Homo sapiens: one gene and its partners. The protein of the gene in region 1 purifies or fractionates together with the protein of each later gene. This does not show direct contact. Each region holds a gene or a part of one and is shown on either strand. Other genes may lie near its edges. The genes, in order: APOBEC3D, SAFB2, FAM120A and ELAVL2.

What was found.
Region 2: the proteins of APOBEC3D (region 1) and SAFB2 purify together in Homo sapiens (affinity purification with mass spectrometry; 2 studies listed by BioGRID and IntAct, with this or other methods). This does not show direct contact.
Region 3: the proteins of APOBEC3D (region 1) and FAM120A purify together in Homo sapiens (affinity purification with mass spectrometry; 2 studies listed by BioGRID and IntAct, with this or other methods). This does not show direct contact.
Region 4: the proteins of APOBEC3D (region 1) and ELAVL2 purify together in Homo sapiens (affinity purification with mass spectrometry; 2 studies listed by BioGRID and IntAct, with this or other methods). This does not show direct contact.

The regions. Positions count from the first base shown.
Region 1 is NC_000022.11:39,031,092-39,033,780, forward strand, and holds the end of APOBEC3D (DNA dC->dU-editing enzyme APOBEC-3D), read left to right. Parts: intron 1-602; coding exon 603-882; intron 883-1,106; coding exon 1,107-1,225; 3' UTR 1,226-2,186; downstream 2,187-2,689.
Region 2 is NC_000019.10:5,586,495-5,591,810, reverse strand, and holds the end of SAFB2 (scaffold attachment factor B2), read left to right. Parts: intron 1-17; coding exon 18-63; intron 64-1,402; coding exon 1,403-1,533; intron 1,534-3,830; coding exon 3,831-3,943; intron 3,944-4,043; coding exon 4,044-4,110; coding exon of another isoform or gene 4,111-4,114; exon of another isoform or gene 4,115-4,115; intron 4,116-4,411; coding exon 4,412-4,568; 3' UTR 4,569-4,812; downstream 4,813-5,316. UniProt on the Homo sapiens protein: Binds to scaffold/matrix attachment region (S/MAR) DNA. Can function as an estrogen receptor corepressor and can also inhibit cell proliferation.
Region 3 is NC_000009.12:93,446,815-93,454,714, reverse strand, and holds the start of FAM120A (constitutive coactivator of PPAR-gamma-like protein 1), read right to left. Parts: upstream 3,031-7,900; 5' UTR 2,800-3,030; coding exon 2,326-2,799; coding exon of another isoform or gene 2,006-2,325; exon of another isoform or gene 1,114-2,005; intron 1-1,113. Other genes in the region: uncharacterized protein FAM120AOS, read left to right, coding at 2,006-2,568, 4,116-4,236, 7,018-7,104. UniProt on the Homo sapiens protein: Component of the oxidative stress-induced survival signaling. May regulate the activation of SRC family protein kinases. May act as a scaffolding protein enabling SRC family protein kinases to phosphorylate and activate PI3-kinase.
Region 4 is NC_000009.12:23,823,231-23,830,875, reverse strand, and holds the start of ELAVL2 (ELAV-like protein 2), read left to right. Parts: upstream 1-4,635; 5' UTR 4,636-5,070; intron 5,071-7,645.

The DNA of each region.
Region 1 (2,689 bases):
AGGGGCAGAAGTTGTGGTGAGCTGAGATCGTGCCGTTGCACTCCCGCCTGTGCAACAGAGCAAGACTCCATCTCAGAAAAAAATAATAAAAAAATAAAGAGGAAGGAGAAGGATGGAATAAGGGAAACTCAATGAATAAAACGCCCTGGGGCCTACTATGCACCCAGAAAAATGAAAAGTAAAGAAATAAAATAAGGTCGTGCATGTGGTTTATGCTCATAGTCCTAGAAATTTGGTAGGCTGAGGCAGGAGGATGGCTTGAGCCCAAGATTTCGAGATCAGCCTGGGCAATGTGGCACGACTCCGTCTCCACAAAAATTACAAAAAAATTAGCCGGGCGTGGCAGCACACACCTGCAGTCCCAGCTAATCAGGAGGCTGAGGTGGGAAGATTCCTTGAGCCTGGGAGGTCAAGGCTGCAGTCAGCCCAGATCGCACCACTGCACCCCAGCTTGGGCAACAGGAGAGACCCTGTCTCAAAAATAAATAAATAAGAAAATGCCCTGGGGCTTCAGGCCTGCCCTCTTCTCCCATCGCCCCACCCCTACACTCCTCCTGCTCCTGGTCTGAGCTCCCCCTGCCCTCCTCCTCCTCCTTCCCCAGGTGGATCCTGAGACCCATTGTCATGCAGAAAGGTGCTTCCTCTCTTGGTTCTGTGACGACATACTGTCTCCTAACACAAACTACGAGGTCACCTGGTACACATCTTGGAGCCCTTGCCCAGAGTGTGCAGGGGAGGTGGCCGAGTTCCTGGCCAGGCACAGCAACGTGAATCTCACCATCTTCACCGCCCGCCTCTGCTACTTCTGGGATACAGATTACCAGGAGGGGCTCTGCAGCCTGAGTCAGGAAGGGGCCTCCGTGAAGATCATGGGCTACAAAGGTGAGACGTGGGGGGCTGAGGAGAGTGGGTGCGGGAGGGACAGCATGAGGGGCAGGTGGGTCTGCAATGCCGTGGGGCGGGGCAGTGTCCCCGGGAAGCCTGCAGGGATGGGGCCGGCGCCAGCTGCAACTGGCAGCCAGGAGACCTGGCTTGGGAGGGGAGGGCCCAGGGCCGGGAGAGAGGCTTGCTGGGCCCTCACTGCTTTCTCCTTGTTTTTTTCTCAGATTTTGTATCTTGTTGGAAAAACTTTGTGTACAGTGATGATGAGCCATTCAAGCCTTGGAAGGGACTACAAACCAACTTTCGACTTCTGAAAAGAAGGCTACGGGAGATTCTCCAGTGAGGGGTCTCCCTGGGCCTCATGGTCTGTCTCTTCTAGCCTCCTGCTCATGCTGCACGGGCCTCCCCTCCATCCTGCACCAGCTGTGCTTTTGCCTGGTCATCCTGAGCCCCTCCTGGCCTCAGGGCCATTCCATAGTGCCCCCCTGCCTCACCACCTCCTCCCCGCTCTCCCAGGCTCTTCTTGTAGAGGCTCTCCATCCACCTCCCCAGTCCTGTTCCCCCAGCCTGGGTGCCCCTAACTTGACTCTTCCCATCTCCCCAGCATAACCAAATCTTTTTTTTTTTTTTTTTTTTTTGAGACGGAGTTTCACTCTGTCGCCCAGACTAGAGTGCAATGGCTGGATCTCAGCTCACTGCAAACTCTGCTTACTGGGTTCAAGTGATTCTCCTGTCTCAGCTTCTGAGTAGCTGGGATTACAGATGCCTGCCACCACGCCCAGCTAATTTTTTTTTTTTTTTTTTTTTTTTTTTGTATTTTTAGTAGTGACTGGGTTTCACCATGTTGGCCAGGCTGGTCTTGAACTCCTGACCTCAGGTGATCTGCCCATCTCTGTCTCCCAAAGTGCTGGGATTACGGGCGTGAGCCACCCGGCTCGGCCGCACAACCAAATCTTATTAAACTCAATCTAGTCTGGCCCTGGTGACTCACGCCTTTCGGAGGCAGAGGTGGGAGAATCGCTTGAGCCCAGAAGTTTGAGACCAGCCTGGGCCACACGACAAAGCCCCATTTCTACAAAAAAAAATACCAAAAAAAAGCCAGATGTGGTGGCATGCACCTGTAGTTTAAGCTACTTGGGAGGATGAAGTGGGAGGACTGCTTGAGCCGGGGAGGTGGAGGCTGGAGTAAACTGAGATCGCGCCACAGAACTCCAGTTTGAGCAACAGATCAAGACCCTGCCTGAAAATAAATCAATAAATACACTCAACCTAAATGGATATGAATATATGTAAGTTGAAAACCAGTTTTGAGAAACATCCTTTGTAAGTTTCATCCTACGAATTGGGTCATTCATGTCCTACGCAGCTAAAACAGAGGCCAGCAGCCAGGGAGGAAAAGCAGTCAGGCCACACACCATTGCTCCCAAAATGGACTTATCTGCAAGCCTGACTCCTGAAACTGTGCATTGTACCCTGAAACCAGCTTTATCCATAGCTTCTGCCATAAATGGCTGTAAGTCTTGGACTCCTTGCTCCAAACGCAGTGACTCAGCAATGGAACCTCCCAGCTCCCAACACTTCCTAGTGCCCATGGTGGGCTTTCCCACAGGGCAAGAGAACATTTCTCCTTTTTTTTTTTGAAGTGGAGTCTCGCCCTGTCACCCAGGCTGGAGTGCAATGGCGCAGTCTCCGCTCACTGCAACCTCCACCTCTGTTGTTCAAGTGATTCTCCTGTCTCAGCCTCCCGAGTAGCTGGGATTACAGGCGTGCACCACCACACCGGGCTAATTTTTGTATTTTCAGTAAA
Region 2 (5,316 bases), on another chromosome or scaffold:
ATCTTTTCCTTTTGCAGGCGGGAGGGTTCGAGGCCAATGATGGGAGACCACCGGGATGGGCAGGTGAGTAGAGCCCCGATGCCAAGCCCTGGGGCCACTGTACTGCTGTGCAGGCATAGCGGACCATTTCTAGCCAGGCGGCCGCTTGATCCCAGAGAGGTGGCAACCAAGTCAGCACGTGTGGCGGGTATGCAAGTGTGGGTTCTGGCCAGCGACTAGAAGTACAAATATTTAGTCGGACGTGGTGGCTCATGCCTGTAATCCCAGCACTTTGGGAAGCTGAGGTGGGTGGATCACAAGGTCAGGAGTTCAAGACCAGCCTGGCCGACATGGTGAAACCCTGTCTCTACTAAAAATACAAAAAATTAGCCAGGCATGGTGGCGAGTGCCTGTAGTCCCAGCTACTCGGGAGGCTGAGGCAGGAGAATCGCTTGAACCCGGGAGGCGGAGGTTGCAGTGAGTCGAGGTCGCACCATTGCACTCCAGCCTGGGCAACAAGAGCAAGACTCCGTCTCAAAAAAAAAAAAAAAAAAAAAAAGCGCAAATATTTGATTGTTTTGTAATGCTCAAGTTTCTGTCATTTTCAAATATGTTGGGCTTGTTCTTCATTGTATCCGGTAGAAACCTCATGTGTCTCTTCATTGTCCACTTGCTCAGGGAGCCTTTGGGTCTTAGTGCCTGTGGGGTCCCCCAAGAACCCAAATGGTGGTTGTCGTTTAGCCCACATGTGCCAGGGTCGGGGGGATGGGGGAGCCCGGGCTTCCCCATGTTTCAAGTCCGTGCTTGGTGGGCACGGGGGGCTGAAGACCACAAGAATGGTCCCTGAGTCTCTGTGGTGCCATGCGGGTGCCCCGTGCGTGGTGGCAGGGTGTGAGTTCTGAGAAAGCAGCAGCCTGGTGGAGAGGTGGGAGGTGGGCGGCAGAGTAATGGCCTGTAACAGCAGGCAGCACCCGCCTGCTTCCTGGCTGCTGGCTGCTCCGTGCAGAGTTGGTTGGCCAGGGAGGCCGGAATTGTGGCCCTGCCAGAGCACAGGGGGGCTGACCCACCCGAGGGCCCTCCTGTTATCGGAAAGGAGGCGGCGCCCAACTTCTCAGGGAAGACAGGGTTTGGTGACGTCTTAGTGGATCTTGAGCAGAGCTGTTGAGGGCAGTAATGCCAGGGTGCCCTGGCTCCTGGGGCAGCTCAGGTGGGGCAGTGATGCAGCTGTAGGGGTGCGAGGAGGGGAGCCAGGGAGCAGAGGGTCAGTGAAGCAGGGCCCAGCAGGGCTGAGACTGCACCCTTCAGTCCTCTCTCAGCTCCGCCCCACCTGCCACCCTGGGGCCTGCAGTGGACAGGCCTTCCGGAAGGTGGGCCTATGTGGGTGACATGGTCAGTGTCACCCTGTTCCTCTCCTGCCTTCCAGCACTATGGAGATGACCGCCATGGCCACGGAGGACCCCCAGAGCGCCACGGCCGGGACTCCCGTGATGGCTGGGGGGGCTACGGCTCCGACAAGAGGCTGAGTGAAGGCCGGGGGCTGCCCCCTCCCCCCAGGTTAGTGGGTGAGCCCCAGCCGGGTGGGGAGCATCTGTCCTAACCTGGGAAAAGGTTGGTGCCTGGCCAGGCACGTCCCCAAGGTTTGATTCAGCTAGGGGAGCTTTAGGATGGGCTACCAGGGGTCCTGCCATTTGAAACCCCTGACTCAGAAAGTCCAGGTTCTCAAGAAGAAAGCATAGAACAGGCTTTCAGGGATGGAGCTGTCCAGGTCGCCCAGAATGGCCCATCCCCATTCTTGAGCTGGGGGTCGCCTGCAGTTGTGAATGTCTCGATCATGGGCTGCGTACACACTGGGAGAGACAGCGCTGAAGCTCTTAGTCCTGCCCCGTCCGTGGTAGAGCAGCCTCGCCCCTGCCTCCACGTTGCCTCTTGACACGTGTCTTCCTCGGGTTTTTTCTCTGACCCCCAGTTGGTCTGGGGTGGATCTTCTCAACCCTATCCTGCCTATTAGAATCACTTAGGAGGACCCTCCACCCAGGACTCAGGGCTGAGGACACTGGGCCAGGTCCTCCACAGGTGTCCAAAGCCACCTTCACCAGCACTGCAGTGGGGGTGCTGTTCTGAGCCTTGTCAGCATTGGTGGGGGGCAGGGCTTGTCTGGGAGGACTCTGGGTGCCTCTCTAGTTTCTTTGGCCAGCTGCAGTCACCCCTGCCTGTTTGTCCTGTTGCCGTCTGGGCTGGCCGTGAGGAGGCTGGTGGCAGGACTGCTTTGCGGCTGCTGCCCTGCTTTCCTCTGTGAGCCGAGTGTCCTGTCTTGTCTCCAGCCCTGGCCCAGGGCTGCCTCGGACCCTGCCCAGCGCCACAGGGTGGGTTTTGGCCCCCTGTGCTCCCCCGTTCCATCCCTCCCTCCGCGCTGAGAGGCACTTCCAGCTCTGCCAGGGACTTTGACTCGGTGCTGTGCCGAGTGTCCCAGGACACCCGAAGCTTCTCCTGAATCTCTGGGCAGCACAGACGGTGGCAGTGCTCTGATCAGTTGGTGTGAAGTGTTCTCTCCTGTGAGACTTCATTAGCATTCCTGTCCTGTCGCTTGCTGGGTGTTATGGTAAATACCTCGGGAGTGTAAACGGGAAACTCACCCATGGTGAGCAGCGGCTGGGCGCCATCGGGTCACCGAGGGCAGGTTCCACACGGGAGCTTTCCGCTCCCTCCAGGGCGGTATTGCACTTGCCTGGCAGTGCGCGCTGGGGGCTCTGGTGGCCCCTCTCGGGCCTGTGGGCTGGCTCACTTGGCCTGACTGTCACTGCATCCGGCAACCCACAGCAGGCAGGCACTCGTGCAGATGGGTCTGGCTGCTTTCCTGCACGGCCACTGTGACTGCTTGGCCACTTGGGACTCAGGACACTGGACTCGGATTTTCATCTCCCAGAGTTTGTCTGAAACTTTAAACAAATAGCTTTCTTTAAGTATAGTTCACACGACACACACTTCCCGTTTCACGTGTGCAGTCAGTGGAGGTTTGCGTGTACGTGGATCTGTTTAGCCATCCCCACGGCTGATTCTGAAGCATTTTCATCACGTCAAAAGAAACCCTGCCCCTTTTAGCAGCTGCACCCTCCCCCCTGCCCTTGGTAGCCACAGGTCCCTTTCTGGCTCTGGATTTGCCGTCTTGAGTCATTTCTTGGCCTGCGCGGTGTGCCTGCTGGGCCTGGCTTCTCCCTAAGCCTTGGGTATTCAGGGCTCATCTCCACATGCTGCCTGGGCCAGCGCTTCCTTCCTAGTTAGGGCTGAACATTCCATGGTCCAGACACACTACATAGTGTTATCTGCTCATCAGTTCATGGGTGTTGGGGTCCTTCTCCCTTTGGCTGTTAGGAATCCTGCCGCTAGGAACATTCATGCACAGATGTCTTTGGCCATGTTTTCATTTCTGGCAGGTAGGAATGGGTTTGCTGGGTCATGGTAATTCTGCGCTTAACTTTTTGAAGAACCACCAAACTTTTCCACAGTGGCCACACCATTTTACATTTCCACCAGCAGTGGACAAGGGTTCTTCCCTTTCCTCGCACCCTCCACGGTGTGTGTTATTGTGTGATTCTAGCATCCCAGCCAGGGGGAGGTAGCATCTCGGTGTGGCTCGGATTGGCATTTCTGGGTGGCGTTGAGCACCTTCTCACGTGCTTACTAGCACATCTGTCTTTGGGGAAATGTCCCTTCCCTTGATTTGCCCACTTGACATGCAGCCCTTGTTGTGTGGCATGACCCACCATGCAGCTGAGGTCAGGGTGGGTGCGCCTGCTGCCGACACAACCCTGGAGGCTCATTAGATGGCTGCATGTCTTTTTCTTTTGGCAAAGGGGTGGCCGTGACTGGGGAGAGCACAACCAGCGGCTAGAGGAGCACCAGGCACGCGCCTGGCAGGGTGCCATGGACGCAGGCGCGGCTAGCCGGGAGCACGCCAGGTGGCAAGGTACGGGGCTGGCTCCAGGGACGAGGGTGGCTGTGGCCCCCACATGTGTCCAGGGGCTTCCCCAGGAACGGAGTGTTTGCAGACCCTTCTTCTCTTCTAGGTGGCGAGAGGGGCCTGTCTGGGCCCTCGGGGCCGGGGCACATGGCAAGCCGCGGTGGAGTGGCGGGGTAAGGTGTGTCGTCCGTGGAGGACGGTGGTTCACTCCTGCTCCTCACTTCCTCTCCCTTTTTTGCATGTTTGATCAGCTGGCTGGGTTGGATGTTATGAAAACAAAGCAAAAAGCAGCTCTTTGCAATTTATGCAAATAACGCTCTTGAGTTACCTGGAATACAATGTGCGATGATGATTTTTCTCACCTGGAAAAAAAACCCAAGCGCTCTAAAGGCTGCGGGACCGTTACTGAACCCATGTTACGATGAAAACGCTGAGCACTTCAAGGGGAAAAAAATTGTCTGACTTTGTTCCTAGGCGAGGCGGCTTTGCACAAGGTGGACATTCCCAGGGCCACGTGGTGCCAGGTGGCGGACTGGAAGGTGGCGGAGTGGCCAGCCAGGACCGGGGCAGCAGAGTCCCTCACCCACACCCTCATCCCCCCCCGTACCCCCACTTCACCCGCCGCTACTAAGTCCCACTCGCTGCGAGTTTTCGGGTGGGCAGACGCACTGTTGAATCTGGTAGCCAGGGTTCCCTCGAACTTGGGGGATCTTTTTAAAAGCAAAGTAAATCCTGCCACCATGTTGTAGCTCAATACAATGTGAACTCACTTTTTTTTTTTTTTTAAATAAATGTGTTCTTGTTCTGCCATTTTTAAATCAAGGTTTCTGTTAACGAGGCATTCCATTTTCCATTAATAAAGTTTACCATTCGCAGTCTTGCGTGCGCGTGCACATGCGTGAGTCCTGGTGGCCGTAGAGCTCGGGATGGGACCAACCCTGGGCGCAGTGGTGTGACCACATGGTGACTGTTGGCTCTGCCAGGTGCTGCCAAAGTCTTTTGCCTGCATCATCCTGCTGAGTTGTCATAACCACCTCAGGAAGTGGGCTGTCCGGGTTCCCATCATGGGATGAAACTGAGGCTGGGGAGTCAGCCCATGGGAACTAGGAATTCTTCAGGGGGTGCTGTGCACCATAGGGCCCTCAGACCAATCCCTTTACCCCGAGCCTGTCTCTGCGTGGGTAGTGGTGAGGGCGTGCCAGGCCCTGGGGAGCCCTCCCCCTGCCACCTCAGTCTGGGGCTGTGTCCCATGCTGGTGTGTGGTGGGCTCTGTCAGGGAGGGTCCGTGTGTGGTGGGCCCGCCCCTCCCCTGGCTGCCAAGTGTGTCCTGCTCAGTGTCTGCTGCCAGCAGCTGGTTAGGAGTGGGATGGCGCTGACTC
Region 3 (7,900 bases), on another chromosome or scaffold:
ACATTGTACTACCCTCAGGGACCAAGGAAGTACATAGGGTTGTTTTCCTTTTCTTAAAATAGCCCCAGAATTATGTTTGCTTTTTATAGCTTTTTAAATCTCTCTTGTCACTTCTTGCTATTAATGGTGCTCCTGCCTCTGGCAGACTCTCCTCTTCATCCTCTTCTCAAGCTGAGTTTAGAAAATAGATAACCAAGCTTGTTAGAATTACATATGAAAAGAGGCCAGTCCATGAGTGAGAGAGCTTAAAGGATTCTTCAGTGAGGAAAGCAAAAGCACCCCCCTACACCCGCCAACCCCCCACATCACTGTACCCAAACTTCCTGACATCTTGCTTGGTTGCTGAGAAATTTCTAGTAGCTAAATCTCTTAGGCACTTTTCAAAAAGGTAAGGTTGCCAGCTAAGAGACCACCAAGTAATTGAGTTATTACAATATTCATTTTGTGCAATTCGCACTATAATATGACCCTAGGTCAATAATTAAAAGCTTAGCAAAAGCAAAATACAGACAAAATTATCCCATTATCCCGTGTCCAGAAACCTAAGTGAAAAAGACGATCTTAAATGGAGCTTAAATCTAGTTTCCTAACACTGACACATTGGTCTGAATTCTGAGCACCTACTAGGTGTGCGAGGCATTCAAAGGGGTGCAAAGATAAAGAAACTGTAGAATTAAAAAGAACTCAACAGTTCTTTAAAGATACAGTGACCATATGCATACATACTGATTCTAATCCTAAGTAATATTCACAGTGTTCCCTTGAAAGTCGCTTGACTAGTTAAGTAGAGAGCTGTGCGGTTACCAAAGGCAAGTCAGTGCAGCTCATCCTGTCTTTTAAGTAGTCTTTTCCATCTCTGAACAAGACTAAACTATGAACACTTTTACGCTCTATTAGGGAGATGGATCGCTTCAGACAAATGGCAGCACCTTACTTCCCTGAGCGCCCCAGGCTCCGATTCAGAAATTAAAAGGCAGGCACTTCCTCTCACCCGAACTTCCCTGAGGAATGGCAGCTGTGTGTCTGCCAGGCGCAGGGGCCAATCGGGACTCTGCCGGCCGCCTCCACCCACGACTTAAACACCATCTCACCAATTGCAACCGGATCGTGGGTGGGACTTCCGCTATCATTTTAGGCTTAACTACCACCATCTCCTCGCGGGCAGTGGGGGCAACCGCGAAGACAGAATTTCACAAACTTTCAGCTCCAGCAGTTTCAAGGAAATGTCAAATGACAAGATGGAAGACCGAGTGTCAAGAGCTAAGACAACAAAAAGGCCCCCAAAATTTGTTTTCAAGAAAACCAATGAAAAAAGCAAGCAATCAGAACGTGAAGTCCAGGATCATGGATGTGCTTATCTTCACAGTCACTGCTGGGTCCTGAAGTTCTCCTCTGGCCCAGTGCCAGCTGCGAAGCCCTCTGCCAAAGGGCCAGAGGAGGCCGGTGATATAGAGCTCTGATTACCCACCCGTCAGGGCACCGCTGAAGGTCACTGAATACTTACTGTGCACCCGAAAAATAAATCCTGCGAGTTCACGCCCGCGTAGTTCGCCCCCTGATTTTGAGCGACTCCTTTCGCATGGGATCTACAAAACCGAACTGCCTTAAAGACCTCTTTCACACGGACGTGAAGTCACAGAACTGACAAAATCCCATCCTGTCAAAGTGCACGGGTCTTTGAAATCTAACACAAAAAGCCATAGAAAGATTCTCTAAACACCCTGTACTAAGAGGAACACGGACAGGGCACTGCGTTCTGAAGTAGAGGCCAGGGCACTGGCCCTTAGACACGTCTCGCTGTCACCGGGCTAACAACATTGGCAAGGGCGGCGGCAGCAGCACTGATATTTGCAGCCCCCAAGGGCTCTGGCGAAACCCCCTCTATTACTCTGTATCCTGCCTGCTTCCAAGATGAACCTGTTGCTGGGAAAGAACAGGCTAAATTAGAAAAGGGAGTATTTTGTCAAAGTTGAAGGTGAGTGATAGCCTGCCCGCCTCAAATAGGATGGGAAAAACTAAGGATATTGGGGATGATGACACTGTCGCCTCCGAATTCTGGTCCGGGGCTCTCTCCCAGCCCTCAAGTGTCCCCACGCGGCCGCGGACCCCGAACAGGGACAGCTGGAGACGGGCTTGGGCAGCGCGCGGCCTGCACCCGCGGCCATCCATCTTGCAGCCCGGCCCGGCCAGGCTATCCCGGGCAAGGGCTGGGGGAACTCGCTGCCCCCAGCGCCGCCACGGCCGGGCGACATTCTGCGCCCTGGGAAGGGGGATAGGGGTGCGGCGCGGCCCCGGTCCCCGGCCCGCCCGGATCCCCGGCCTCACCTTGACGTGGAAGCGGATGAGCGCCAGGCGGATGCAGTGGGCCATGCAGACGGGCGGCAGGAACCAGACCTTTGGCGGCGGGGTGCCCTTGTTCTGGACATGGCTGACGATCTGCTGTGCCGTCTGGCGCTCGTTGCCCTGCCGCTTGACCCACTCGTGCAGCCGGGCCTTCTCGAGCGCGCCGTTGAAGAAGACGAAGAGCTCGATGTTGCCGCCGAAGCAGGCCTTGGCCAGCGCCGCCAGGTAGCCAAGCATGTGGTTCCACTGGCCGCCGCTGACCCAGTCGGTGTAGAAGCCGCCGTAGAGGCGGTGCAGGCAGTTGTCGGCGTCCACCAGCAGGCGCAGCGGGGTCTGCGGGGGCCGCTGCCGCCCGCCGCCCACCAGGCTGCCCCGGGCCAGCTTCTGCAGCTCCACCGGCACCACGGCGCTCGGGCAGTGCTTCTCGATGTAGTCCTGGAAGCCCTGCACGCCCATGGCGGCGGCGGGGGCGCGGGCGCGGGTGCGGGCGGGGGGCGGCGGGGCCGGGGGTGGTGGGGCCGTGGCGCGCGGGCGGGCTGGCGGGCGGGGGCGGCGGCCTCTAGGGGGGACTGGGGCGGGTCGGGGGCGCGCTCATGGCCGCCGCGGCCGCCATGTGCTGCCGCCTCCCAGGGCCATGTCTGGGGAGGGACCTGCCGCCGCCGCCGCTGCCGCCGCTGCGAGGCCGAGGCCGAGGCCGAGGCTGAGGGCCGGGGCGGGGCGGGCGGGCGGCGCTGACGTAGCGGACCCGCCCGGCGCGGACGCCGCCCAGGCCCGCCGGCTAGCAGGCGGAAGAGGCGGCGCCGGCGGGACGCGGCTCGGGGCTCCCGGAGGCGGCGGCGGAGGCGGAGGCCCGGAGTTGGGCCGGGACGGGATCCGGGAGGCTTCTGAGCCGGAGCAGGCAGCGCCTGGAGGCCAGAGGCCGTTCGCCCGCCTCAGGCCGGTCGGCCGCCGCTCCCCTCCCCTGCGCCCTGTTCCCGGCAGGGCCAGAGAGGCCGCCGCCTCCGCCCGGTGGTTCTCGGGCGAAGGGAAGCCGCGAAGCAGGTCCTGGGGAAGAGCTCGCCTGCTCCTGAGGGAAGCAGCGATAAGATGGCGCTTTGAAGGGGAGCCGAGGCCGAGTCACTCTGTTCGTCGGGACGCCGCCTTTCTAACGCCGCCGTCGGCTCGCACCACTCTGGGCCTGCTGCCCACACTGACTGCGGGGTCCGGGAGAGCGGGATGCTGGCCGGCCGCGCCTGGCTTCTTGGAAAGAGCAGGAAGGAGCGCGAGAATGCAGTTCCGCGGCAGGTGCTCATCCCAGCAGCTTCGGGCTCTCGGTTGTGGTTTTTACACCTATGACAAATGACATGGCCAAACACACCATAATGTCTGAAGGTACAGGTAGCCCTAAGCGCCTGCTCGTCACGGAAGAGACTGTCTTGAGAGCACAGGTCTGTTGCAGCGTGGGAAAGCCTGCGTTACCACTGCGCAATGGCTAGACTGAAACGTGCGCCTTTGCAGTGGATCTCCCAGCTCTTCTGAGGGAGAGGGATTTGAATCTTGTTGCTTTAGTAGCATCTTCTGGAAGGAGGTCGTTTACGTAAATTCTGTTCCAAAGCTCTGTCGTAACTGCTTCTAAAATGAGGTTGATACTGTATGTATATTAGGCTTGCATAAAACATTTTCAAAAAGAGATTAATGTCTTTCAGAATATAAATTTAGAAACCCAGCACTCTAAAAGTTTTAAAGTGCCGCTTTTACTTACCTTCATCTCTCCATTTGTTCTTTTTTTGGAGAAACCTCTGTAGAGGAGCAGGATGCAACCGACAGGCTGTGGCCGGACAGCTGCTGCCCAGCACATGGAGCCTGCACGCGCACGGTTTGGCCAAAGAAGCCCCCATACTCCCGGTGAAAAAGGCAAGTTGGATTTTTCTGCTTTCTTTTCTGATACCCACCTCAAATGCAAGCCAGTATCATACGTACATAAATTAAATGCTGCTGGTATTTTAGGAAGTTACATTTAAAAGCAGGCTGACAAGTTATGCCACTCACCTATGCATAAAATTAGTCACAAAGCCAGGATGACATGTTATCTAAAAATAATACAGGCCAGGTGCGGTGGCTCACGCCTGTAATCCCAGCATTTTGGGAGGCCGAGGCGGGTGAATCATTTGAGATCAGGAGTTCGAGACCAGCCTGGCCAACATGGTGAAACCCCGTCTCTACTAAAAATGCAAAAATTAGGCGGGCCTGGTGGTGTGTGCGCCTGTAATCCCAGCTACTTGGGAGGCTGAGGCAGGAGAATTGGTTGAACCCGGGAGGCGGAGGTTGCAGTCAGCGGAGATGGCACCACTGCACTCTCTAGCCTGGGCAAAAAGCGAGATTCCGTCTCAAAAATAAATAAATAAATAAAAGAAATAATACAGTTAGCCATTAAATAACGAGCAAAATCCAGAAATATCCAAATTTGCTTTTATAACCCAAGGCAGGTTCACAAGGTGAGGAGTAGTAGTTTTTAATCACTCGTATTTTCATTTGTAGCATTGCATTCCGTGTATTTACCTTTTCTTTAAACACTCTTGCTTTTAATTTTTAAAAATGCATTAGTGCGGCCGGGCGTGGTGGCTCACGCCTGTAATCCCAGCACGTTGGGAGGCCGAGGCGGGCAGATCACGAGGTCAAGAGATGGAGACCATCCTAGCCAACATGGTAAAACCCCATCTCTACTAAAAACACAAAAATTAGCCGAGCGTGGTGGTGCGCACCTGTAGTCCCAGCTACTCGGGAGGCTGAGGCAGGAGAATTGCTTGAACCTGGGAGGTGGAGGTTGCAGTGATCACGCCACTGCACTCCAGACTGGCAACAGAGCGAGGCTCCATCTCAAAAAAAAAAAAAAAAAAAAATGCCAGTGCCAGTATCTGGAATTCTGGAAATAAATTTATTTTCACCTTATTATATTGTAGAGGTCTAAGGTTCTGGAGTCAGGCCCCCAATATCCATCTTATGATAAGTCTGTGCCCTTGCAAAAATATTTACCTTATTGAACCTTGGATTTTATCATCTGTAAAATCAACATATTAATAGTACTTAACCTCCCAGGTTGTTATAAGGATTAAATCAGATAACCTGTGTGCCTGCCACACAACAAATGCTCAATAAATGTTGGCTTTTGTAGTTATTTCCAGAAACTGTATTTGTCTAGACTTATACTCGAGAACATAGACCAGTTATTGTACTTTTGGAAAGTTTAAAATTCATTATTGTATCATAACACATAAAACTCAATTCTTAGTTGCCCTATTTAGCTTTGTGTTCTTTAAAAAAAAAAAAAAAAAACTTTATTTATTGAGTAGCTATTGATGGTGGGCAAAATGTTTAGCTGACAAACACTTATATACTCTGCATCCTTAACTCAAATTCAGGGGTTGGTTGAAGTTAAATTGCTTAAATATTGAGGTAAAAATAAACATCTGGGCCGGGCGCAGTGGCTCACGCCTGTAATCCCAGCACTTTGGGAGGCTGAGGTGGGCGGATCACAAGGTCAGGAAATCCAGACCATCCTGGCTAACACGGTGAAACTCCGTCTCTACTAAAAAAAATACAAAAAAAAATTAGCCGGGCGTGGTGGCAGGCGCCTATAGTCCCAGCTACTCAGGAGGCTGAGGCAGGAGAATGGCGTGAACCCAGGAGGCGGAGCTTGCAGTGAGCCGAGATCACGCCACTGCATTCTAGCCTGGGCAACAGAGCGAGACTCCATCTTAAAAATAAAAAATAAAAAATAAACATCTGTATTTAAAATTTAATAAAAAGTTATGTCTTCTTGGAGGTTACAATATGACAACTAATGGTTGGGGACTTTTTCTTTTTTTATTTTGTATTTATTTTATTTATTTTTTCTCCCCCAAGATGGAGTCTTGCTCTGTTGCCCAGGCTGGAGTACAATGATGTGTTCTCAGCTCACTGCAACCTCCCTCTCCCAGGTTCAAGTGATCTCCTGCCTCAGCCTCTGGAGTAGCTGGGATTACAGGTACACACCATCACACCTGGCTAAGTTTTGTATTTTTAGTAGAGACGGGGTTTCACCATGTTGGCCAGGCCAGTCTCGAACTCCTGACTTCAAGTGATCCACTTGCCTCTGCCTCCCAAAGTGCAGGGATTACAGGCATGAGCTACCGCGCCCAGCCTAATATCATTAATTAATATTTTACTTAGGTGAGGTATCTAACCACCAACAATAACAGATGAGTTTCCAGTTTTTCAAACAAGGTAATAAGAGACCTTAATGCTGCCCATGTAATCATTAGCAGATGTTGGGAGACCAGCAGACTGGAGCTAAGCAGGGAGTCTGCGATCATGGAAGAGAGCAAATTAATCCACACTAGGGATTCTAACCTATAATGTTTACCTAGCACCAGCCCTGTTAATTAATTGTCAATTTAAATTACCCAGAAGAACACACACATCTGTAGGCCTGCTTCATAAATGGTAGATCAGTAACTGACCACACTGCAGCCGTGTATCGGCAGTTGAGTTTTTTGGTCTTCAGGCTCTGCTATCTCTCCAGTACTATGAGTTATCAGCAGTAGCAGAGGGTAGGAGAGCTCCACAGAGATCAATATTCGGACTCTGGAGACCATGACAAAATACATTTCATATTCCAAACTAATATATAAACTACCTTTTTTTTTTTCTTTTCAGATTTCCAGAAGCTGTTCTGTCAATAACAAAGTCTCAAAGAAAACCACAAAACCACCAACACTAAGATCATTCTTGAGTCCAATTTGAAAAACTAGGGTCAAGTTCTGCAGAGGCATTGAAAGGACAAGAAACCACCCTGATACCCATCGTGTGAGGGAAAATGCTCTATTCACCATTCCTCAGCTTCTGCTTCTGGTTTCAGAGTTCTCTCTATATTGGAGGGTGTTTTAAAGCTAGAGTGGTCTTTATCCACTTTTATTAACACATCTGAATGTGAAGGTCAAGAGAGGAAAGTGATATGTCCTAAGTCAGAGTAGAGTCAACAAGAAAATAAGACAAACAGCGACTGAGCCCCTGGTGTATACTGGGCATTGGCCAGCTACTGGGGATATGGAGATGAAGAAAACATAACCCTTCTTCAAGGAGCCCAACCTACCAAGGTAGACAGACATATAGACAAATAGATACTTGCATAGAAAAAAAGAGGAAAAGGGGATCAGTGTGACCTGTGTAACTAAGTACCCTATAAACCCTCCTGCAACAGATCATATTGCCCTTTATAGTGGGGATGGTAATCCCATCTGAATTCCACAGGTACTTTGCAGTCATACCACACCCATGTGTCTGTCGGTCCTGACTGTACCATTTATAAACAGCTTCACTTTCAGCAGTTCTCAGCCCTCTTAAGCTAGGGTCATTGTCAGTAGGGATACTGCTTCATAAGCACCAGCAGAACACCAAAGGAGACCATATGGGTGAAAGCAACCAGCACTGCCCTGGCGCTTCATAGGTTCTTAGAGTTTTTATCTTTTACTTTCAGTCTAACACAGCACTGCCTGCTTTTTGTTTTTGTTGCTTGGTTTGTTTTTTTCTTACCGTGTTC
Region 4 (7,645 bases), on another chromosome or scaffold:
TTTTCCCTTTTTATGCTCAGGAAAAACGTGAGTTTATCCTCCTAAAAGTTGCTATTGAGTAAAAGAGGGGAAGGAAATCTGGGGACATTTGTGGGAGCGTCTACATAAAATAATCGTCGATCTGAGGCTGCAAATATATTTTCCTAGACACTCTGGGACATGTGCAACAGATCTTAGTCTGAATATCTGCAGGCAAATCATCTAAAGGAGAATGAACCTCATACATTGGTCCAGGAAAAAAAAAAAAAAGGTGTGTGTGTGTGTGTGTGTGTGTAAGTGGGGGGCTGGGAAGGGAGAACCAACCTAGGCTGGTCTCAAAGATTTACCGCGACACTAGTTACATTTTTTAAAAGAACATTTAAATGAACAATTCATGTGTCTTTAAGTGTAAACAGCAACCTCAGGATTCGGGGGGAATATTCCTTGAGTGTGCTCTCTTACTTTACAGTCTTTCCCCCTTGAACAGGAGTTTACAGACACAATGTAAAGAGAAAGTAAAGGATGTTTGAGATCCCGCTCACTGCCGCCCCTGGCACTGTCCCTAACGAAAGTGTTTGCAATGTAAAGAATCTTTCGCAAAATAGTCTTGGGAGTCACTCACCTTCCAGTAAAAGGCTTTACCCCTTTGCTAGGGGGTGGAGGGAGCAGGGAGAAGAACGGGGGGAGGGAGCAAGGGTGAGCAGGCAGGCATTTTTGCTGCAATTCCAGCTGGGATATTCGAGGATTAAAAACTCTGGAGCAGGTTTACCAGACTTTTCGAAGACTACCTGGATTTGCATTTATTTTTCATGAACACTCTGAAGAAAGGCGAGCTCACGCCGGCAAGGGAGTGTATGTAAAACAGGACAGTGGAAGGTGCACAGCGAGTTCGGGGCTCTAAGTCTCCTGACAGTTTGTCATGATGGCTGAGTCCTAAGAAATGCCAGCCTAATTCAAAATAAATGAGTTTCTGTGGAGTAGGACAGTCTTTTCCGCAAAGTCCCGTGGAATAAAACATTCCCAAGACACGCAGTTTCCGTGTCTCACAGAAAGGGACAGAAAACACCGTCTCAAGCTTTGCAAATCTTAATTTGAGGGCTGCTCGTCTCTGTCCATGGTGCTAATTCCTGCCTCTTTCTCTTGCGTGGTTGCCACGGTATAAATTCACACTGGTGTCAATTTTCACAACTTTTCCCCCCTTTCGGTGAAAGGCAAGTCCACATACTACTTTAGGAAGAATAAATAAAAGAGTAATCAGCAAGATATATGATATCTGTATTTCTCATGCAGACATTAAACTATCATATTTCCAATAGTATGAACCATAACCCCCTACTCCACCATACTAACACATAACATTTTTATTCATCTAAGAAGGTTTACTGTTGGAAATTACTGCCTTAAGCCAAACATTGTAAACTAATTTTAATAGTTTAACTTCTTTATTTACTTACAAAACGTTACAAGTAGTTTACAGTAACTTTTATTACAAAATGTAAAATCACTCCTTCCCTTGCTCCCAGGACCTCTAGTGTAAGGGAGTTATTTATCCTAAAAGACATTTTCCACAACAGCTTTGCATATTCTTATGAATAAATGTTCTCTTATATAGAAACTTCAGTAAAATAATTAAATTCATGACTTTTTCGGTTTTGAGAACTATTCTTTTGCAACTTTATCCACCTCACACTTTTGCTCCAAGTTCGCAGTCATTCCCTTCATCTCTCCCTTTTCTGCTGCAATTCAAAATAATGCCAGGAACTTGGAAGATATGTCAGAGTTCATATAACTTAATCATATTCAAATGTCTTTTAAATACTTTCTAATGCAAATTCAGATGTTGTGGATAATTCTTTTACCAAACTATGAGTGAAAAGGGGTTGATTGCATTTTTTGCTTATTCTTAAGTGAGATGTTTGCACATAGGCTTCATTAATTAATCATAGGATAGTATGTATTTGTTAATGTTTCAAGCTATGAGACATGAATTTCAAAGTGAAATCTACATCCAGATATCACTTGTTTTAAAGAGGCTGTAATCAATATTTTTTATTTTTAAAAGTTGAAAAAGTACATGTTGCTTATAATACATCTATCCATTTAAAAGTTTTAAAATGTAAAAACATCTGTTTTAATGAGGAAGTAAAATAATATTTTAAGATACTTTCACTTTTTAAATAATTTAAGTCCATCTCACCTACATAAAAAGACAACATGTTAGGGATGACAATACTTTGAATAATATTTTGTCACTATGCCCAAGCTGAAAAAAAACCATAAATACTGAATCTACAGAATTTAGCATTTTTCATTTGAATGAACAAGTTTACTATTTTCCATGTAATTTCTTTACATAATACACATGCTAGATTTTTATTACTCCATATCACTCCCAGCTTTTCACACCTGTCCCTATCATTTTGGGTTATCTACAGATATCACAGTTATCTACAAGTCTTTTTTTGTGGATATAAACATGCACCAAAAAAAGTATTAGTTTCCACCTAGTTAGAAGGCACTTATATAATTATAATGGTAAAGATTTACTTCAATGTACTGAAATTATATGGGCATATGCAACTAATTCAATATTAACCTACGAGCATGGTAAAAAGGAGGAAAGACAATTCACTGCCTAGGTAAGTCTGATGAAATCAAACAGTATTATACTTTCCCCAAATTGTATTCATTTAAAGGTTATTTCTCTGTATGGAGCTGGGGACAAGGGGAGGGGTTGAAGGAAGATGACTACAAACCCAATCTTCTGTTATTCATACATCTAGTCTAGATGGGGTGGAGTCTTCCTTTTCCCCCTTGACTCCATTTCTTCAAAGTGCTTTTCTTTCTTCTTGCTGTGAGTTTCACCCAGGTCTAGAGAATAGTTTTAAGTTGAAATTAAGACTCCAGAGGTTGTTATACAAAAACTGGGGGTGGAGGTTAAGGCATGATTTTATAAACACTAATTATAAGATAACATAGATTCAGGCCTTCTTTCTCAAGCCCCAGGTATTGTCATGCAAAGTAACAGAACTCGTATATTGTTATACAGGCTACACGGGAGATAAACAGGTCTGTTTTTCACCATTAATCATTTATCAACACTCAAGGACACTCTCAAAGAACACTGATTTACTGTATTCCTCACTTCAAAGTCATTTTGCTTTGGGATCTTCTGTCCCATTCCCCTCCATGACACCCTACCCTTTTGCAATCTCTAACTCTTACCTGTGTCTTCTTTTTCCGGCATTCTCAAAGATAGCGACTAGTTGTAAATATGTAAAGGAATCCCTTTCAAAAAGGCATGTGCCTCTGGTTAAGACACATTACATGTGTAATGTAATGTGTACATTACATTTACACATTCTGGTAAGAATGGTAAAAACTGTCTAGGAAGTTGGTGCTATCTTTCAAGATTGAAAAGAGAAATGCTGGCTGGAAAAGAACGTAGGTCAAATGAATATTGTGTCTACTTATACATCCAGACGATCCTGAGGACCTCACTTTCACTTAGAGGAAGAAACAATTATCATGCATAAAACTGTATTTTGGTCTCCTGAATGCTGTTAAAATATGGGGTTGTAATAAAGTAGTCTTCCTCTATGAAGCAGAAGCATTGATAGCACTTGGTCTTCTGGTTAAACTTCTTAAATCCTCACAGAAAGAGCCCTGATAAAGGTTCAACTATCTTTGCTGTCAGCAATACATGTGTGGTCCAAGGACTGTACCTGTCTGCAAATGCAGAGGAGTGGCTTGTTCCAGTTTTATATACAGCTGCTCTTTTTGAGAATCATTAGACACCTCGAAGTGAAGGACCTTAGCTCTACTCAATACCTCTTTTTCTGGATAGGATATTTATCCTACACTTTTCTATTCTAACATGAAGTGAAAGCCAATTCAAACCGTGCAGCTTTATTTGAGAGCATTTCTGACTTCATCTTTATCTTAAAAGGATGCTTTAAAAAGGGGTTCATGGGGACACATAAATCTGAAATATGCGTATATTAAAATAAAGACATACAATTACCTAACATCTAATACAAAATACAGTACTGAACACAAATCGAAAAAAGGCATGCGGGCAAATAATGGATGTACATTCATCCCTTTCACTCAGATCAAAGAGAGGGAGCTCTCAATGACTCATACATACCGGACAGAGTTAAATGTTATAAAGAAATATGCCACAGATGCAGCAGTGATGGCAAAGGAAATGAATCTTTCTGAAGCAGAAAGATTTAAGAGGAAAGGAGATCGTGCCATATCGCAAACTCTGATAGTACAGTTCCAACCCTCCCACGTTGCTCTCTCCACATTTCTTTTTGCTTCTTGCATTTCCCTTCGCCGCCAGTGTTAAGAGTGTACCTCCCCGCACAACTTACCTTGAAACGGGACTCCATTGAGCTCTCGAGAGTGACACAAGCCCATAGCCAATCGTCTCACGCGGCCCCGCCTGGGCGGCCTCAATGGAAGCGTGTGGACCAATCAGGATCCTGGGGCGATGAGCAAGTTACGTTGTGGCGCGATTCGGCGTATACTTCCGCGCGTGCTGCCCGGGATAGGAGCCTGGCAGAGCAGCTGCACACACGGCAGTGCGGAGGCAGAGAAGGGGTTGGTGATACGGTGCTATAAATCTGTGGTCCAGTCCACCTCCCTTTTAAGACGTCCTCCCCCCTATTTCTGTTCTTAGTTAGAGATGCAGCAGCTTACTCCTGTAGCGACCTACTAAAAAGCAACAAGGAGAAAGACATCGTCTTTTTGAAAAAACGTTCTTTCGTCTCTTTTCTTTGTTCCTTGGTTTGTTTTTCTTGCCCCTTTTTGTTTAGTTGAACGGCAATAGGAGGGTAGTCTCTCCGTCTTTTTAAACTCTTTTTTAAGTTTCCCCTCCCCTTTCATATTTTTTTTCGCCATTTCTTTTAGCATTGGACTTTGGGGTCGAAAGCGTTTCTTTTTATTTGCTTCTTTTAAGCCGAGCACAGTTTAGGTTTCGTGCTGTCTTAAGAGAACTATCCAGCAGCTTCTTGCTCATCCTTATTGGGAGAACTGCACCGTTACTTTAAAAACACACATACACAAAAACCTTAAGGGAGAAAGGTAAGTTTCGGTTTGGTTTCTTTAATCATTAGTTGCAGCGATGCGCTGGCAAACCCAGAAAACCTGTAAGTGAGCGGAATACAGAATATGAAGTTAATTGCACATGTTTGTCTCATTTCAAAGCTACTGTTCTGCTTTTTTAATTTTAAAGAGCTAGACTAAAAGACGGTGGACGCATGCTTAGCGTACTGAATATTCGTAAATGTCCATGGCAGAAACTTAAGTGGTAAATGTGGCCAGGGGGGAGTAGGGGTACAATGGGAGGTTAGATGTGGAGTGAGCTTCAAGATTGAGATCGGAAGTTCATTTCGTGGGGAGAGAGTGATAACTTGGGTGTTGGGGATGCATGCCTCTACTTTGGCTCAGCAACGGAAGGACGGGAGAGGCTTTACAATCATTAAGGGGAATCAGAAGCCTGGACTGGCAGATTAGACCAGCGAAAACCACAGGCTTAATTGCATTAACCAGATAGCATGTGCTGGGGAGATGGGATTGCCAGATGGAATTTAGATGCTGCACCAGGCAGCGAGTTGTAGTTGACTGAAAAAAGTACATGCCGCCTGAGGGCTGGGGCTGGGGCTGGGCTGAGGCTAGGGTTGTTAGAAGCTGTCAGAACTCATCATTGTATGCGGGCTCTGATTCACGGACTCCAATTATCATAATTCAGTTTTAAAAGAAGATAGCCAATTTGGGGCTGAATTCTTAAGCCTGTACCGGATATGAGATTCCCTTTGTTCAGAAAAGCGTAAATAAGATCCTTGGAGCTGTGTCTATGAAGTGCCGGCTGCTTGGGAGCCTCGCTGTGCTGGGCGCTGGGAAGTGGATTCCAAGCCCTGTCCTTGGTCCTACGCGGCTGACTTCGCCTTCGGGGAGAGGGGGAACCCCTCTGCAGCCGCGAGGCTTCGCAGCCACCCCAGGAGCCAACTCGGCCACGTAGCCCTCACCCCCTCCTTACCGCCCCCACTTCCTCGAATAGCTATTGTTAAATTGACGCCAGGAGAAAGATGGTTGGGGATGACAAGCTGGGCAGATAGGCACACGCTTCATTTTAACTTTTGTGATTTCTCAGGGTTTAGGAGAAATCATTTGGCTTTCTACTGCCAAAGAGAGGATCCAGGGTAGATGTGGGAAAGGGGGAGGATGTTCGTGGGCCGGGGAGGGCGGAAGGGGTGGTGGTGGTGGAACAAGCTGCTGGCTTTCCTAAGAGAAGTTTAAATTATTGGCACGAGGGGGTGTGGGTGAGTGTGTGCGTGAGAGCGCTCATGTGGTGCTCGAGAGGCAGAGGATGGGAAAAAGCTACAAAGCCGGCTGGGGTTAACGTCTCGTTGCTCCTCACCCCACCCACTCTACCGGCTGGGAAAGCCAGCGCACCGTCAGCCTCCCGGACTGGACTCTGCGAAGGGCGGTGGGGGCTAGGGATGGCAAGGTGGCAGTGCCCACCACTGGAGCTCCGCGGCGGACGAGACCTCGCGTGGCCATTGTTGCTTAATTTATGCCCAGCACGTTGCTACGTACCCACCTATTTCACGTCTGTACAGAATTAATACGAAAGCTATACAACTGTGACAAATTGGAGGTTGGATAAGTTCCCCGTTTCCCATTTTCAAGTACCGGTTAGCAAAACTGATGGCGAGACTGGGTATTTTCTCGTAATTACCGGCTGCAGGTCTGGTTTTATTATGGCGAGGGTGAGAGAAATAGCCAACCATTTAGTATTTACTGTTAACACTGCTGGACAGGGATGGAGGTCTCTGTACTTTCTCCCCGAAATGCACGGATTCTGTCCCTTCCCCCTCTCATGTACAAACACTCCAGTTGGTTAAGATTCTAAACCTTCAGCCGTTCTCCGCACCCCTATTTATTATACCCATCCTCTGGGGGTGGGAGGGAGATTAATGTTTTATTTCCCAGGCCTACACTATTAACTGCAACCTATAAAACGTAGACTTACAATGAAAATTTTTAGAAAGTACACAGCAGACAATAGTAACTAAAGAAATTATTTTCCAAATTGAAAATCAGTTTCTAAAGGTCAGAAAAAGGGTGTTCGTGTTTTGGGGAACAGAAGGGTAGGAAATGTGTTTGGGCCTTAAGACTTCCTTGTAAAATGGCTTCTTAAATGGGACATCTGAAAGATTTGTCAGACTATGAACAGATAAGCCCGCAAAAAAATATGTTGAGAGTTTCGAAGTTGTTATGGGGTTAACATTTTATTTTTTAACTCTCGCCCTTACTTATTGCTGTCATTGCCTGAATGTGTCTTACAGCAGGCACTTCTTCCCCGTTCCCTCTTTTAACCAAGTGCTTGGGCACCCCGCTTCATAAAGCTAACCTGTTCTGGAGCTCTTCACAAAAAACGCTACGGTTGTAGGAAGAAGTGGTTTGGAAGACTTGGGGAACTCTTCTGAGAGCTCTCCCATAATTTAGTCAGCGTCAGGAAGTAGGGCGTAGGGCATTCTAAGAGTTTTAGGTTTGGATTGACAAATTAAGTAGGCCCATTTTCGCCTAACGTTTTGGAAATAGGCATTTTTAGCAATCCCGCGTGCCTGGGATGAGAATATTATAATTAACTATT